Regions from separate parts of the Homo sapiens genome. Here region 1 is linked to region 2. The links come from fine-mapping of genetic effects on gene expression. A gene starts in region 2. The other region holds a variant in brackets. All regions are shown on one strand. Distances are from middle to middle. Region 1 has its middle 71 kb from the start of STPG4. Region 2 holds the start of STPG4 (sperm-tail PG-rich repeat containing 4).

What was found.
Region 1: its variant is fine-mapped to the expression of STPG4 in whole blood (TOPMed, PIP 0.90).

What each region holds. Positions count from the first base shown.
Region 1 is chr2:47,082,464-47,085,372 of GRCh38, forward strand. No RefSeq gene overlaps it. Among named protein-coding and RNA genes, the nearest start is that of STPG4, 71 kb to the right of the region's middle. The variant G/C (reference allele first, on the strand shown) is at 1,519.
Region 2 is chr2:47,153,851-47,156,759 of GRCh38, forward strand. STPG4 (sperm-tail PG-rich repeat containing 4) reads right to left here and starts at 1,458. Exons shown (of 7, transcript NM_001163561.2): 1 at 1,321-1,458. The coding sequence starts at 1,401. RefSeq lists an enhancer at 1,976-2,135.

The DNA of each region.
Region 1 (2,909 bases), 71 kb before region 2:
TATAACTACAACAGTCCTTATATAAGGCAGGCAGGAGGGTCAGAGTCAACAGGGGGAGATGTGATGACGGAAATGAGAGTGGAGCGATCGGAGGAAGGGCTGCAAGGAAAGAAATGCAAGTGGTCTCGAGAAGCAGAAGACAAGGAAGCCAACTCTCAGAGCTTCCAGAAGGAACCAGCCCTGTCAAAATCCTCACTTTGGCCAAATAAGAATGATTTTGGATTTCTGACCTCTAGACCTGTAAGGTAATAAAATTGTGTTGTTTTGAGCAACAAAGTCTGTGGTCATTTGTTACAGCAGCCACAAGAAATTCACACAGAGGGTTGAGTGAATGAGCTACCCCAGCACAGATGGGCACAAGGGCTCAGGGAGGCCTTTGTCAACCTGCGCTTTGGGGTATTCTGCAAGTCCAGCTCCCATGCCCAGCCCAGGAGGGGCTGAGGATTAGAAGCCTGAATAGGCGTGATCCTGCCTGGTATATTTCCAAGTGTCCACTCTGACGCTGTTCAATCGGGAAAGCTCCAGCAACTTCCCTCCTCCTTGATGGCGCTCAGTGACCATGCAGGGCCTTGGAGCCCTGGAACTTCAGAGCAGGGAAGAGGGGGGCAGCGGCCAGCCTTCATCAAGCCCTGCACTCCACCTGTGACCAGCACAGCTCCCAGCACATTGCCTTGCTGTCCCCCACGGCCTCCTCCCAGGCTGCTAGGCTGCAACGGGGTGAGGTGAATAGAATGCTTGTCAGTACCTGCCTCTGCCCCCACTCAGCCCACTCTGGTGACCAAAGACGCAGTGTCATAGCCTGAGTTAACTTCCTGCAGTCACCCTGTCTGCCTACAGTTTTCAGGAACTAAAGCACACTCCCACCAAAGCAGTCACGGTGCTAGCTTGCTCCCATGCTAGTTAGACCCCTTGGAGCCCCTACAACTGTCTAGAAGGATGGCACCTTTTTCTGGGCTCAAATATGGGCAAGGCTGTTGTTAACAAGACAATTGAGGGGTATGTACTGGGAGGCCTTCCCCTACAAGTCCATCCCCAGGAGCCCCTTCTCTTGCCACTCCGTCCTCCCTCCTCCCATCACCCATCTCCTGCTCCTTCCTTCCTCATGCCCCCACCACCTCCCAGCCTCCCATGGTTCCAGCCTTGGCCCCTCCTGCTCTCCAGAGTTGCCTTTTCTCTGAGGAGGCTGCAAATAAGCCCAGCCAGGGTCTGGGGCTTGGGCACTGGCCCCCAAAGCCCACCCAGCCCTGCTAAGAGGAGGGTGGGACGGGCAGGCCATGAGGCCCTGAATCCAGAGCCCAACCCCTTCCCTTTGAGCCTGGCAGGTTCTATGCGCCTGCAGCCCTGCCCTTGGCCAAAACCAAGGGGTCTGTAGGGACCCCAGCCAAGAATCAGACCAGCAAAAGCACATGGGTTCAGGCCCTTGCTTGTCCTTCTACCCAGAACAACTGTCACCTGGTCATGGTCAGGCACTAGCTTTCCCCAGAAAATCATGTAGGAGTGCAGTTGGCCGGCACCCCA[G/C]GGATCAGGAAGCTGAGATCAGCGAGAAGGAGGAGGGTCAGGGGCAAGGAACCCTATCTGGGCAAAAGCCCAGAGCAGGAAGAAGCATCTGCTGGGGGAAACGGAAGCAGCCCAGATGGCCCTGCAGAATCTTCTCCATGGGTTCCACCTCCAGGGGAAGTCTCTGCAGGCCCCCACCCTCTTCCTGCAAGCTGGTATAAACGCTTTCCCCTTATGATTCCGACAGGGTCCTCATTCTCTCCTGGGATGCCAGGGAGCTGCCCTCCACCCCAGTTACACGCACCTCACACGGGCCCCCGCAGCCGTGCCTGCAGCAAAGGTCTGGGCCCTTCTGACCACAGCTCGTGGCCCAGGCGCAGACCCCTGACCCAAGCTGGCCAACTGGATTCTCTCTCCTAGGAATTGGAGACTTGAACCAAGGAGGTGCCGGCTCTATTCTTTTAGAATGTTGACTCAGAAAGTGATATGAGGAGAAGCTGAGGTCGCCGCATTTGATCCTCTACATATAAAGAGGCAGTGAAAGTCAGCCTCCAGAGGGAGAAAAAAGCAGGCCTGAGAGAGGCGGAGGGGAGACCCTGAGGCCTGAGAGAGAGGAGGAAGGTAGACCAAGAGGCCTGAGAGAGGCGGAGGGCAGACCATGAGGCCTGAGAGAGGCGGAGGGCAGACCATGAGGCCTGAGAGAGGCAGAGGGGAGACCATGAGGCCTGAGAGAGGCGGAGGGCAGACCATGAGGCCTGAGAGAGGCAGAGGGGAGACCATGAGGCCTGAGAGGGTGAGAGAGTGAGAGCAAGAACACATACACACACACACACACACACACACACACACAGAGAGAGAGAGACAGAGAGAGAGAGAGACCTGAGAGAGGCAGAGGGGAGACCATGAGGCCTGAGAGACAGGAGGGAGACCATGAGGCCTGAGAGAGGCAGAGGGGAGACCATGAGGCCTGAGAGAGGCAGAGGGGAGACCATGAGGCCTGAGAGAGAGGAGGGAGACCATGAGGCCTGAGAGAGTGAGAGCAAGACACACACACACACACACACAGACACAGAGTGAGAGAGAGAGAGAGAGAGAGAGAGAGAGAGAGAGATGGTTCTTGCCAGCCCCTGGTTTACACTTTTGTCGATGAGATGCCTCTAAATCCTTACAATCTGACCCCCTTCTTCCCCTTGCTAGTTTGAGGGGTTTCTCTAACCTTTCTATCAATGAGCCTTGGCTAAGATACACGTGGCCATCTCCCGCCTCTATCTCATTCTAGAACAGCATCTCAGTGCCAGGTGCTGCCTGAGATGTTGCTTCCTAGAGAAAACACCCTCCATCAGAATGTCCAGCCATTACTTTCGATCATGCAGGGGACTTTAGCCCACTTGGAGAATAAAATTGGAAACTAT
Region 2 (2,909 bases):
AATTTTTAACATCCCATTTGCCAAGTTAAGAAGCTGATTATTTTGGTATTCCTCAGTTTCCAAGGAAGCTTTTGTCTTCATATTTAGTACTCTATACCCATTCATCCATTATTATTTCATATTTATTTCAGCCCATTGTCCACAGAACACAACCGTTTAGTATATTGCTGTTTGTCCTAGATAAAATCATTAAAATGTTGAGTTCTCCTTTCATTTATAATGCCTTTATTACTATAAAATATAGGTCATCAAGCAGGACTGCATTAAAAGTAATAATCAGTAAAACTGATATAATTCATTCTTCCTGTCTAGTAACTTAAATCTACTGTACTTATGAGTACCACTGGGCTTTATTTTATTATGAAATATGTTAATTTCTTTAAAAAACATTTTCTCATGACACTGCTAAAGCTGAGCTTCTTCTTTGATACTTCTTCGCGAGATTTATGTTGAATCTTCTCTGTTGCACTTTTATAGTCACAGAAATACAACTTTCTCAGGCAGGTCAAGACAGGCCTCCCACCCCTACCCCAGAATAAGGAAAATGAGATGGGAAGGAGAGAGAAGTAAACGCGATCAATCTAATGGAAGACAATTGGCAGCTGCTGTTTTGTTTTGCCCAAGACAGGTGATCTAAATTCCATCTATCTACCACTTTAAATTCACTCTAAGGGGAAAGATAAAAGATTAGGTTAAACAACCCTCACCCACATTTATTTTAAAATGTAACAAAGGCCAGCCATGGCGGTGCATGCCTGTAATCCCAGCTACGCGGGAGGCTGAGGCAGGAGAATCCCTTGAACCCGGGAGGCGGAGGTTGCAGTGAGCCGAGATCACACCGCTGCACTCCTGCCTGGGTGACAGAGCGAGACTCTAAAAGAAAAACGTAGCAAAAGTAGCTTCAAATATTTTTATAAATATTAAAGTAGGAGGCGGAGCAAAACGTGTCTAGTAAAACTACAGAAGGAAAAACCCAGTCTTCCGGCAGATGGAGCGGAAAGGGAAAGAAATCCAATCACCATATTAAAGCAGTTGTCCAGTTTAATTAGTAGTGGGAAGAAGGGAAAAATACAGAAAACAAAGGGCGAAGGAGAAGGAAAAGGGAAGAAGCAAGGGGAAAAGAAATAAAACAAAGGAAATGTCCAATAAAGACCAGGAAGGAAGGTCCGCAGGTGGAGACGTGCGTGAGGGCAGGGAGAGAAGGGTAGGAAGAGGGAACGAGAGCGGCACGAAGGCCTGGGATTAGAGAGCGGTGGGAAAAGGGTAGTGGGCCTGGTGAGGGGAGCAGGAGCCAGGCCGGCAAGGGGCAGGCCATCTTACCGAAGCTGTGATGAATGATTCTCCACCCACCAGGTCTTCCCTTATTGAGGTGGAAGCGGTGGCGACGGCTGGCTGGTCCATGGTGGCCTCCTCTCTCTCTAGGCTGAACCTGAGCTCCGGTTGCTAGGAGGCGGGTGTGGCCCGTGGGCTCCCGAGCGCGCGCGCCTGGGACCGCTCCGGGGGACCCGCCAGGTTTGTCTTTAGTGCTGCAGGGAAGGGAAGCGGGCACGCACTTTGAGGTCCCGCGCGAAGAACTGCGCAGAGGAAAACCCTCGAAAAGAGACGGTTATGAAAGCTTGTGAGAAGAAAATCTAGAGGGCTCTGGAGTTGCTAGAGAGCCCTCGGGTAAGGATCTGCGAAAAGGGAGGCTTGTTAAGGGCTTGAGCGTACCCACAATCTCCATTAGTTCCCTTCCAATCCACCACCAATCGCACACCCCAGACAGGGAGGCAGTGTGCTTGGTAGGCATACTTAAGAGAAATCTGCCTTAGCACCCACTTTCTAAGATTGTTTCTAAGCTCCTCCAAATAGAAACTCTGGGGCTGACTTCTCTTGCTTCTGACTTGCAGAGTGGAGTGAGCACCAGACACAGCCGGTTTCACTAGCTGTGAAACCACAGACCACCCCATTCTTCTCAGTATAGACCCTTTTTATTGTCAGCCTCTCTAGGCTGTAGCTTCTTCTTAACCTAGGAACATTCTCACCTTTAAAAACAAACCCTCCACAACCTTAATTTCATTTTATACAGTACCTACTGTATTCCAGGGACTTCACACACATTAGTCTCATTTAATCTTCATACCAACCCTACAAAGTAGGTATTAGTTTCATTTTCTGGATGAGGAAACAAAGGTTTCCTTGGACGTTTAGCACAGTTCACTCAGCATCACACACAAATGGCAGAACCAGAATTAAAATCCAGACCTGACTCTAGAGCTCCACTGCCCTATACCATGAAGTTTCTGCTTCCCTTTACAAACTTTCAAGAGTAATATGGACTCTTTTCTCACTTCCCATACTTTCCTTAAAACATCTTAATCTGGCCTGCACACAGCTTTTAATTAAAATTGCACCTGAACTCACCAGGGATCCAAGTGCCAAATCCAGTGGGGATTTTCAGCTCTTATGAAACTTGGCCTTCAATTTTCATTGCTGCATTGATTATTCCCTCATTCTTGAATCACTCTCCTCCCTTGACTACCAGGACTTGGACGCTGGTTGCATATAATGACTTATTCTGTGCTTATTTCCTTGTCTATAGAGAAGGGGATAATAAAATTGGTACCTATCCACATAGGTTATAAAAAAGATTAACTCGAACTGTTCACAACCATGTCTGGCACAGTGCAGTCAGTAAATGTGAGCTGTCATTACCTTTAGGACAAAAGCAACATTTACAATCCAGTCTCTCGCTTCTCTCTTTTTTTTTGAAACGAAGTCTCACTCTGTTGCCCAGGCTGGAGTGCAGTGGCGCGATCTCACTACAACCTCGGCCGCCCGCCACCATGCCAGCTAATTTTTGTATTTTTAGTAGAGACGGGGTTTCACCATATTTGTCAGGCTGGTCTCGAACTCCTGACCTCATGATC